Regions from separate parts of the Homo sapiens genome. Here region 2 is linked to region 1. The links come from fine-mapping of genetic effects on gene expression. Tissue or cell type: whole blood. Region 1 holds a variant in brackets; the other region holds the start of a gene. Each region is shown on its reference strand, or each on the opposite one. Region 1 overlaps SETDB2-PHF11 (SETDB2-PHF11 readthrough). Region 2 holds the start of RPL18 (ribosomal protein L18).

Region 1 (5,372 bases):
AGGTGAATATTTTATAAATTAGAATCTCCACTACTTATCCAATGGTGTTTTATTTCATTAAGGTAGAACTTGAGAACTCAAGTTTAAATTGTCCCCCACCACCTTCTTCTATAAATGCAAACTTAAGAGGAAAATAATGACATGTATAGTATACTCTTGCCTTCCTAAATTATGACTGCTGAATCATCATATCTACTATATATGACTGGAAGAAGTGGTTCTTCAAGTCAACCCTCTTACAAGACTTAGTGGAATTTGCTTTATCTACTTTAGGCCAAATCCATCACACATTGGCTTATGTGAAACTTTATCATCTTTCACTTTTGGTTTTCCTCTGTTTTTAAACATCTTAGGTATAACAGCACAATTTCACCTTGAAAAAGCACCAAAATTATGGTGTTCCTGAAAAGATCCTATTAAAAGACAGTAGTTTATTTGAACTGGTTATGGAAGGTGACTTTGGGATGTAAGAGTGTTCAACTGTGAGTTTCATCATGTGTGTCCGTTGAGCTTGCTTTTAAGAGCAATGTTTTGCTTTGCTCTCTGGTCCATGAACTCATTTCCATTTGAGTGAGTTCCCTTAGTGAATTTTGTCTCCTGCTTGGAAAGTCTCTCTTCTGAACCTGGAGCCTGAATACATTTTCAGAGCCAAATTACAAGTGGGTGAAGACATGCTACAACTACTATTTTTAGCAATGTTTTTAAATTTGTGTCTATTGGGGTGGGAAGGGGAGTGAGGCCCTAAAGATAGGAATTCACTGATAGCTGAAATAGATACAAGCCTAGGAGCCCCAGCCCCCTTTTCTTGACCATATCACAAGTGATTGAAGCCCAGTGAATTAGTCGGTTAGAATTCGTTCTACAACATGATAGAACTTTTCTTACTAGCTTCAGAAATGCACATTGATTTGTGCTATGATGGGTGGTGTTTGTAACAATCACTGTTCTATAGGCTTATGATCTGAGCAAAATGTGAACTTCAGTATGTTTACTATTGCTCTTACTTGAAAACTTTTTTTCAAAAAAAGCACAAATTAAAGTAGTAAATTCATATCCATAGATAGTTCATTCATTCAACAAATATTTACCAAGTTCCTAATATAAGTGAAGGACCACTTCTCATATTAGATTACTAAGTCATTTGTATGAATATGTGTGGCAGTGAAGAGAACAGGTCTTTCAAAAAGCATTTGATTATTTTTTTTAAATACACTCTCTTATTTTTCTACTTGTTTTTTTGTTAATCATAGCAGGATATGACAACTCTTATTTGAATTGATTTTTTCATCTAATGTAATAATGGAAGCCAAAGTATTCATATTTCTTAAGATAGCCCTAAATGTACTCTTGAACTTCTTACTGGAACAATGTTTGATACTCTAGTATGTAAGCTGTATTTATGTAATATTTAGAACGACATGTTAATAAACAAAGTAACATTAAAACAGGCACATAGAGTTGTTTTTTTCCTTCAAAATCAGTAGTCTGCAGCCTTAAAAAGGAAAGAAATTCTGACACATGGTGCACAGAGGTGAACTTGAGGATATTATGCTGGGTGAAATAAGCCACTCACAGAAAAATACTATGTGATGCCATTTGTGTGATATACTTAGTCAAATTCATTGAGACATAGTAGAATGGTCATTGCCAGGGTCTGAGGGGAGAGGAGAATGGGGAACTTGTTTAATGGATACAGAGTTTCAGTTTTCCAAGATGAAGAGTCCTTTAGGTCAGGGGTCCCCAACCCTCGGGCCACAGACCCATATTCATCCCTGGCGTGTTAGGAAGAGGTCGCACAGCGGGAGGTGAGTGGCGGATGAGTGAGCATTACTGCCTGAGTTCTGCCTCCTGTCAGATCAGTGGCAACATTAGAACATTAGATTCTCATAGGAGTGCAAACCCTACAGTGAACTGAGTATGCAAGGGATCTAGGTTGTGTGCTCCATATGAGAATCTAATGACTGGTGATCTGAGGTGGACCAATTTCATCCCAAAACCATCCTCCCCACCCCTGACCAACCGCCCCATCCCCATGGTCCGTGGAAAAATTGTCTTCCACGAAACCAGTCCCTGGTGCCAAAAAGGTTGGGGACTGCTGCTTTAGGTGCATGGTGGTGATGGTTGCACAAAAATGAATGTTTAATGCCATTGAACCATACATTTAAAAATGATTGGGATGGCAAATTTTAGGTTATATATATATTTTACCATAATAAAAAAAATCAGTGGTGTGATTCTTAATGGGTATCAGGCTAAAAATAGGTACCAGCATGAACATGTCAACTGCTTGATTCTCAACTATACACAAACAAACATCATAGAAATCTTTGGATTTTATTCCTGCTGAAGGGTAGTACAGTTGAACTGGCACAGTAGAAAAATGTGTCTGTACCTTTGGGGGTACTTGAAGGGAAAGGCATATTCCCTATCCTCAAAGAACATATGAATTATTAGGAGAGAGGGAGATAGGTTTAGGAATTAACAACACAATGAGATACTTATAAAGAGCTTTTCATAACAGTCAGTGAGAGAAAACCAAATAGGATGATGTGGTTTGGCTCTGTGTCCCCACCCAACTTATCTTGAATTGTAATCCTCAGTTGTTGAGGGAGACCTGTTGGGAGGTGATTGGATTATGGGGGCGGTTTCCCCATGCTGTTCTCATGCTATTGAGGGAGTTCTTATGAGATCTGATGGTTTTATAAATGGCAGTTCCCCCTGGGCTTTGCGTGCTCTCACTTACTTGCCACTACGTAAGACGGGCCTCTTCCCTTTCCGCCACAATTGTAAGTTTCTTGAGACCTCCCCAGCCATGCGGAACTGAGTCCATTAAACCTGTTTCCTTTATAAATTACCCAGTCTCTGGTATTTCTTCATACCAGTGTGAGAACGGACTAATACAGTTAATAGGGTTAACATGACAAGCAGTTAGTTGTTCTGAAGATAAC[G/A]CTTGTGTTGGATAGGGGAAAATATAAAGTGTCCTTTTAGCTCATCTCCAAAACAAAAAGAGGCACAAGAGATGGGGGCTAATGAGCCTTCCAGAGCTTATCATAATTAAGTTTGGTTAGAATGGAGAAAATAAGACAGAAATGTTAGCAAGGGGAGTGTGTGCGTGCATGGGTGTGTTTTAACATTTATTTCCCATAGTGCCAGACATTGTGCTCTCTGCTTCACATTTTACTTACTTGTCCATATTTTGTCCCATAAGGTAGGCAGCAGCATTCTCAGATTAAATAATCGGATTCAAGTTTTTCAGTAGTGACATAGCTGAAGTTCATACTCGGCTCCGCCTTATGAACCCATACTCGGGTTTGCCCAGTAGCCAGCCTCATGGCCACCAAACACATGGTGCTCCATGGTGCACAGTTACATGCTGTGTGAGTCACAGGTTAAACGTGAAAGTAAAGTGGGGGACAAAGGTTTTTTTTTTTAAATAAAGATCATGACATCAGAATGATTAGTCAGATAAACTTTGCTAAGATGGCTGGGCGTGGTGGCTCACGCCTGTAATCCCAGCACTTTGGGAGGCCGAGGCAGGCAGATCACGAGGTCAAGAGATCGAGACCATCCTGGCCAACATGGTGAAACCCCATCTCTACTAAAAATACAAAAATTAGCTGGGCATGGTGGTGCGCGCCTGTAGTCCCAGCTACTTGGGAGGCTGAGGCAGGAGAATCGCTTGAACCTAGGAGGCAGAGGTTGCAGTGAGCCGAGATCACACCACTGCACTCCAGCCTGGCAACAAAGTGAGACTCCGTCTTAAACAAAACAAAACAACAACCAAAAACTTTGCTAAGACTTAATATCAGGATAGGAAGCTGAAGCTACAGTAATCAATAATCATCTAGACTAGCGGAAATCTGTTCAGAGGGTGTTGGATGGGGTCTTCACTTCTGTAGTTTTTAAAGTGCCCCACATGATTCTGATGTGCGGCCGGATTTGAAATCCACTGGTTTAGATTTTGTCCCTAAGATATAAGAACTTAGGCTAGGGCTGCCATTACAACTGGAATGGACTGTTCTTTTTCATCTCCTGCAAATATTTTTCCAGTACTTATTTATTACATGTCAGACACCATGCTTGGAGACTCAGTTAAAACCCATTTTGAGACGCAGCATTATTGAAAATCAGAGTACCATGGTAAAAAATGAGAACTGTGAATGTTAAGTTTTCAGGGGTCAGACGTGATAGTGTGGGCATAAAAACCAGAATCGTATATTAGATTGAGAAAAATGTAACTGTCAATTTTTTTTTTCATTCTTGCATACTCCCGATAATGTTCTTATTCAGAGTCCAATTTAAAATTTAGGTGTCTGTTTTGAAGATGATGAATCTCCACGTGATAACTGTGGCTGAAAAGAGACTTTTCAAAAGCAGACTTTGTGACACGAAAACAGGCAAATTTGGTACAAGTAAAGTAGTATAATCCAAATTTATTATATCTAAGAGGCTATCATGGGCTGTAAGTAGAATCAAAGGTTAAGAACATTTTATGCACTTATTCCACAAACATTTACTGAGCATACTAGGTGCTGGGAATGTGACAGTGAGCAAAAAACACAAGAGTGTGCAAAGAGTGATCAAAATGTCAACCAGTAAGAACAGGGAAGAGCTGCTGAGGCCAAGAGGAGACGACTAGTTCTAAAGATGTGTGGATTTCACAGCCTGGTCTCTGGTTTTGAGCCTGATTGCAATTTGACATGACTCTTGGCTTAGGAAACGGTAATCCCTAATAAGACAGGGATGATATTGATGTAGAACTTGACATAAGATCTCTATTTTCTTGAAAAGAGCACAAGGTTTGTTTTAAGTCCTGAAGTAGCTCAATCTCTTCCTTCAACTGCTGCCACCTTTGTTGAGATGCATGAATTTTTTTCTCTATTGCTATGAAAAGAAGAAATAAAATTATTTCAGCTTATTCAGTAGTTTTATTAGAAATAATGTACCATTTCTAGCCCCTTTCACTTGCAGGTACAGATACACAATCCTCGTGCCTCTGGTGAAAAGGATCCAGAGCCTTATGGGCAGGAGCTGGTTTCTTTATGCCTTCACTTCCTCCTTCTAATTCAGGACAGAATTCTAACATTTATCATACACAAAGCTGTTCAGTAAACCCTTAAGATTTTGTGCACATTTATAGCAGAACAAGTCCCTTTGTATATCTTTGAGAACTTGAAAACAGTGACTGTATAACCTTCATGCTATACTATATCCATTTATTGAGAGATGATAATTGGAGAATGTGGCTAGAATACCAAGGTTAAGGACAAATCCTTCCTAAAAATGTGTCCAATTTTTAATGTTACATAAAGGCTTTTGGTTTCATTTAGAAATAGGAAGGCTTTTAATTGTGGAAACTTAGAAAAGCTTAG
Region 2 (5,372 bases), not on the chromosome of region 1:
AAAAGTAAGAAATAATGTAATGCATGTCTCAATTGAATAACTGTCTTTGTTTCTCGCTGCTATAATATGCTTCCCCCTGCACAGATCTCCCCCTACCCCACGAAATACTTAAAATGTAACTTGACTCTTTGTTCGGTGCTCAGTCTTTTTCGATGTTAATCTGACTGGGCCAGTGCACCTAAATAATAAATAATAAGTATCCTCCTCAACCCCTCAGTTTCTCTGATTCCTAAATTATCCCACTGGAACACCTGCCTGGAGAGAAGGTCTGAAATCACTTATGGAAGGGCTCCCAGGCTGGGCGCGGTGGCTCATGCCTGTAAGCTCAACACTTTGAGAGACTGAGGTGGGAGAATCCCTTGAGCTCAGGAGTTCAAGACCAGCCTGGGCAACAGAGGGAGACCTAGTCTCTAGAAAAAATAAAAAAATTGGCCGGGTGCAGTGGCTCATGCCTGTAATCCCAGCACTTTGGGAGGCCGAGGCCGGCGTATCACCTGAGGTCGGGAGTTTGAGACCAGCCTGACCAACATGGAGAAACCTCATCTCTATGAAAAATACAAAAGTAGCTGGGTGTGGTGGCGCATGCCTGTAATCCCAGCTACTTGGGAGGTTGAGGCAGGAGAACTGCTTGAACCCGGGAGGCGGAGGTTGCAGTGAGCCAAGATCGTGCCATTGCACTCCAGCCTGGGCAACAAGAGCGAAACTCCACCTCAAAATAAATAAATAAATAAAAATAAAAAAATTAGCCAGCCATGGTGGAGGCTACTTGGGAAGCTGAGGTGGGAAGATCACTTTAGCCCAGGAGGTTGCAGCTGCAGTAGGCTGTGATTGTGCCACTGCTTTCCAGCCTGGGCAAGAGTGAGACCCTGTTTTTTCTTTTTTTTTTTTGAGACGGAGTCTCACTCTGTCACCCAGGCTGGAGTGCAGCGCGATCTCGGCTCACTGCAACCTCTGCCTCCCGGGTTCAAATGATTCTCCTGCCTCAGTCTCCCGAGTAGCTGGGATTACAGGTGCGCATCACCATGCCTGGCTAATTTTTGTATTTTTAGTAGAGATGGGGTTTCACCATGTTGGCCAGGCTGATCTCGAACTCCTGGCCTCAGGTGATCCGCAGGCCTTGGCCTCCCAGAGTGCTGGGATTACAAGCTTGAGCTACCACGCCTGGCCTCCAATTTTTTTTTTTTTTTTTTAAAGAAAAGCTTCAGATTTTGTCTTTCCACAGTATGAGGATCTTGGCTTTTAGATGGTCCCTTACCTGGTCCTGCTGCTCCTCTGCTTCAAGGTGTCCATTCATCTGCTGGTCCTCTGCTCTGTTACATCAACGGGACCCTGGCCCTGGGTCTTAAGCCATAGTAGGCTGGTAGGAGCAAGGAGTCAGGTCTCACTGTCCTGGCCTGACCTTCAGCTCTGTGGAGGAGAGGTAAGTGAGGAGCAGCATTGACAGCCAACTGCAGGAGGCCCTTCCAGGCTCAATGTGCCTGAGAACCAAGAGGCAGGGGCCTCCCTGGCGGGTGGGGGGAAGAGTAGATAAGTCATTTTAATCACTGCCCCAGCCAGTCCATCTGGTTGCACACAATATGTATGCTATAATAGGAGTGAAGGCTAATTTTTATTGAGCACTTATTATGTGCAAAATATTGACCTCAGCAGTTTTATTAACTTTCATAATCCTGAAAAACACCCCTGTGTGCCAGGCCTGTTGTCATCCCCTTTTTGTCCATAAGGAGAGTAAGGCCCAAAGAAGTTAAGTGATTTTCCCAAGATCACAGAGAGGTTAAATGACTTGCCCAATCACCCCATTAGTAACTAGCAGAGCCAGGATTTGAATTTGGTTATAGCCTTGCAAGGCCCCATCTCACCATCTTTCTTTGCCACTACTTCTCCCTGGGTCTCCATCTCACCCCTCTTTCTAGGTCTCCTTCCTACCCTTTGGGCCTCCATTCCCCCCACCCCCAAGCCACGGAGTCTCCATTTTGCCTCCCCTATGAAACTCTGTCTCCCTCTTTCTAGGTCAGGGAAGGGCCATCTAGGGGCCGGGGGAGAAGGAGAAGCGGAACTCAAAGGATGGGAATACAGGATGCTATAGATTGAGGTGCAGCAAGATCATCTCGGGTTAGACCTTAAGTAGGACTTCCCAAGCAGCGGCTGCGCCTACGAAGTGCAGCGCGAGATCAGGGAGCGGTGAACCTGATAAGGAAACGCCCGAAGCGTGGGGTCGGAAATTTCCAGATGCCCCGACTAGCCCTGCCAGCCCCGCCTCCTCACCTCCAACACTGGGCCCGCCGGGTCCTCCGGGAGCCACTGAGAGGCCGTCGGCGTCGGGCCAGAGCGTCACCGCGCGACGCATCGTGCTAGCTACACGCATCTCGCTCCCAGATCCCTTTCTTCCGGAAAGCTATCGAGAACACGGCCTGGGTAGGGCCAGAGAGGCCCCCGACGTGCTGGCCCTTCCCTCTTGGACGTTGCGCTTGTTCCTGCGCTCTATGCTCTCTGCCGTTATCGCCCGGCTAGTCAGTCGTCCAACTCACCACAGAGAAGTCCGGATCGTGGTAGAGCGCCGCGTCGCACCCATGTGACGTCACGGCGGCGCCACTCGCTTGAGGCTTTCCCCGCCCACCCCAGCCCGTTCTCTCTTTCCGGACCTGGCCGAGCAGGAGGCGCCATCATGGTGAGCTCGCTTTGCGGCGTTCGGGGCTGGATAATCCGCTGCCATCCGCCGTGGTTTTGGGCTAGGGGCACGCTGGAGGGCGGCAGGGGGTCTGCGGCTGCCCGGAGGGAGCAATTCCCGATACTGGGGACCTACTCTGGGGGCCAGGAAAGCAGGGATGGGTCAGTCATAGCCTACCGCCCCCACTTAGTAGATGACCAAGTGGAGGTACTCGGAGGCTGATATGACTGGGTTTACAAAGCCAGGAAGTGGCAGAGCCAGGATTCCGACCCAGGTGGCTGGACCCGCAGCCACTCTTAGTTATTTGGCTTTGCTGCCTTTATCTGGACCTGTCACTTTCTAGTATGAAAAGTCGGGTTCGATGGGGGCCGCGGCGGGTGAGAGGATCGAGAGCCGAATAACTGGATTTGGGGACCAGGCAGGTCTCTGAGTCTCAGGCCCCTTCCCACCTTGTGATGGTTTTTGAGCCTTTGCCCCAGTGTCTGGCTGTTCGTTGGGTACACAGTAATCTCATCTGACAAGTTTGTGAATTTGGGAAGAAATAATTCACAGGAGATGCTCATCACGGGGTTTTGCACACAGTAAGTGCTGCATAAGTGGAGCTATTAAATAGTTCTTGTAATTGTCAACACAGTCTGAAAAACTTAAGTTGCTCAGAAAGGCAGCAGGGCGGTAGGAGCCTGGCGAGGCGGCTCACGCTTGTTATCCTAGCACTTTGGGAGGCCGAGGCGGGAGGATTCCTTGCCCAGGAGATCAAGACCAGCCTGGCCAATATTGTGAGACCCTGTCTCCACTTTAAAAACGATGTTTTAAAAAGACACTATTTGGTAAGGGTTGTTGGATTGACTGATGCTGTAGGAGAGGTGGTTCTAGTAGTATTGCTAGGTTCTGAATAAGGATTCGTTTTCATCATTACTGCCATTGGTTTGATATTTTTGGTTATCCCTCCGGGTATGGGAACCAGTTTTGATAACATTGTTGCAAAATACAAGTTGTAAAGAATTGACCTTTTTGTATTAAGTTAATATGATTGCTGTGTTACGATGTTTCAGGGTTCTGTGTGCCATGGGCTGAAGGCTTTGTAAACAGCCCCTTTTTACAGAGGGATCAGTGGCAGCCCACAGGTCTCCTGGTGGTGGGCCTGGGATTTGAGCTGGTGTGTTCAGACCTGGGCTTGTGTCCCAGCTCTCAGTTTCAGAAATAAGTAATAATTGGCTATGGTTGGGGGTAATTGGGTCCATGGTTGCCTCTTCACCCCCACAGGGAGTGGACATCCGCCATAACAAGGACCGAAAGGTTCGGCGCAAGGAGCCCAAGAGCCAGGATATCTACCTGAGGCTGTTGGTCAAGGTGAGGCTGGGCCCTGAGGTCTTTGGGAAGGGTCACCCCAGGTCTGACTTGCAGATCCTCCATTCTAGTGCTGGCACCAAGCTCCTCCCAGGGGCCTGCAGAGCAGTCTCGGGTCTCTGGTTCTGTTCCAGGGTCTCCTGCATTTGTATTTTCAGCCTCTAGGCTGTGTACAGCTCGGGAGTGGAGCCAGGATTTTCTAGGTCCTTGGCCAGGAAGGACCTGGGCCAGCTTTCTCCCTCTAGGTCGGTGGGTTGGGGGAAAGGGATAAAGATTATTTTAGTCCAGATCATCATGTGTTTGCCCCTTCACTGGAAGGCTGCGGGGGAGCAGGCTGTCCCAGCTTCTCACTGTCTTCCCGTCCCTCCAGTTATACAGGTTTCTGGCCAGAAGAACCAACTCCACATTCAACCAGGTTGTGTTGAAGAGGTTGTTTATGAGTCGCACCAACCGGCCGCCTCTGTCCCTTTCCCGGATGGTGAGTGGCTGGTCCAGAGAGCACGGTAGACCTGGGAGCCGCTGGGTCTTGTCTGTCTGGAAGGGAGGCAGGACTTGGAGCTCTGGGAGCAACCAGGGCATCAAGGGTTTGTCTCAGCCAGTCGCGAGCGTAGAGCTTGGACTGTTGGTTGGAACTGAGTGTCCATGGGCAGTGGGCAAGTCTCCTGGTCCTCCTCTCCTTCTCTTTGTGAGGTGGAGGTGTCCTGGTGGCTTCAGGAGATTGCCCCAAGTCATAACTGAGTTTTATGTCAAAGGCTCTGCTGAGGGAGGCCCTATTGAACAGTCTGCATTTTTTTTTTTATCTGGAGCTTTCCCCAGCTGGACCTGAGGAGAGGCCTGTGGGGTTTAAGGGGTGTGGTGTGAGTGGGGGGTCCCGTTAGAGGGCACAGCTGCCCTGGCCTGGGGATGCCTCAAGCGGGGCTGAATGTAAACACCAGAACAACTTACGACGTACATCCTCCCCACCCTAAGATCCGGAAGATGAAGCTTCCTGGCCGGGAAAACAAGACGGCCGTGGTTGTGGGGACCATAACTGATGATGTGCGGGTTCAGGAGGTACCCAAACTGAAGGTGAGCTGGCGGGGGCTGGGCAGACCCATCAGACCCTTGCTGTACTGTGCTGTGCTGTGCTGTGCTGTGCTGTGCTGTGCTGGTCCATCCTCAGTCTTGCCACCGCTGGTGAGGCAAGCATCCTGCCTGTCTGAGTGGCTTTGAGGATTGGTGTGGGTCGTCTCTGGCATGGTTGATGGTGGGGTCCCCTGGGCAAGCTTCTTCTGGGGCAAGTTGTAAACTGTTAGTGCTGGCCCCTAGAGCCAGACAGCCTGGGCTCAAGTCTAGACTCCTTTGTCACCTCTGCACA

What was found. PIP is the estimated chance that this variant, and not a neighbour inherited with it, causes the effect.
Region 2: RPL18 starts here. The variant in region 1 is fine-mapped to the expression of RPL18 in whole blood (TOPMed, PIP above 0.99).

The regions. Positions count from the first base shown.
Region 1 is chr13:49,528,023-49,533,394 of GRCh38, reverse strand. It overlaps SETDB2-PHF11 (SETDB2-PHF11 readthrough), which reads right to left. Exons shown (of 21, transcript NR_135324.2): 21 at 4,419-4,884. PHF11 (PHD finger protein 11) reads right to left here. Exons shown (of 10, transcript NM_001040443.3): 10 at 4,419-4,884. The coding sequence ends at 4,730. RCBTB1 (RCC1 and BTB domain containing protein 1) reads left to right here. Exons shown (of 13, transcript NM_018191.4): 13 at 1-1,449. Among named protein-coding and RNA genes, the nearest start is that of PHF11, 35 kb to the right of the region's middle. The variant G/A (reference allele first, on the strand shown) is at 2,949.
Region 2 is chr19:48,616,437-48,621,808 of GRCh38, reverse strand. RPL18 (ribosomal protein L18) reads left to right here and starts at 2,631. Exons shown (of 7, transcript NM_000979.4): 1 at 2,631-2,668; 2 at 3,932-4,018; 3 at 4,386-4,493; 4 at 4,985-5,083. The coding sequence starts at 2,666. SPHK2 (sphingosine kinase 2) reads right to left here and starts at 2,303. Exons shown (of 7, transcript NM_020126.5): 1 at 2,266-2,303; 2 at 1,256-1,407. The coding sequence starts at 1,294. RefSeq lists enhancers at 1,960-2,049, 2,210-2,889, 3,160-3,990, 4,823-5,372.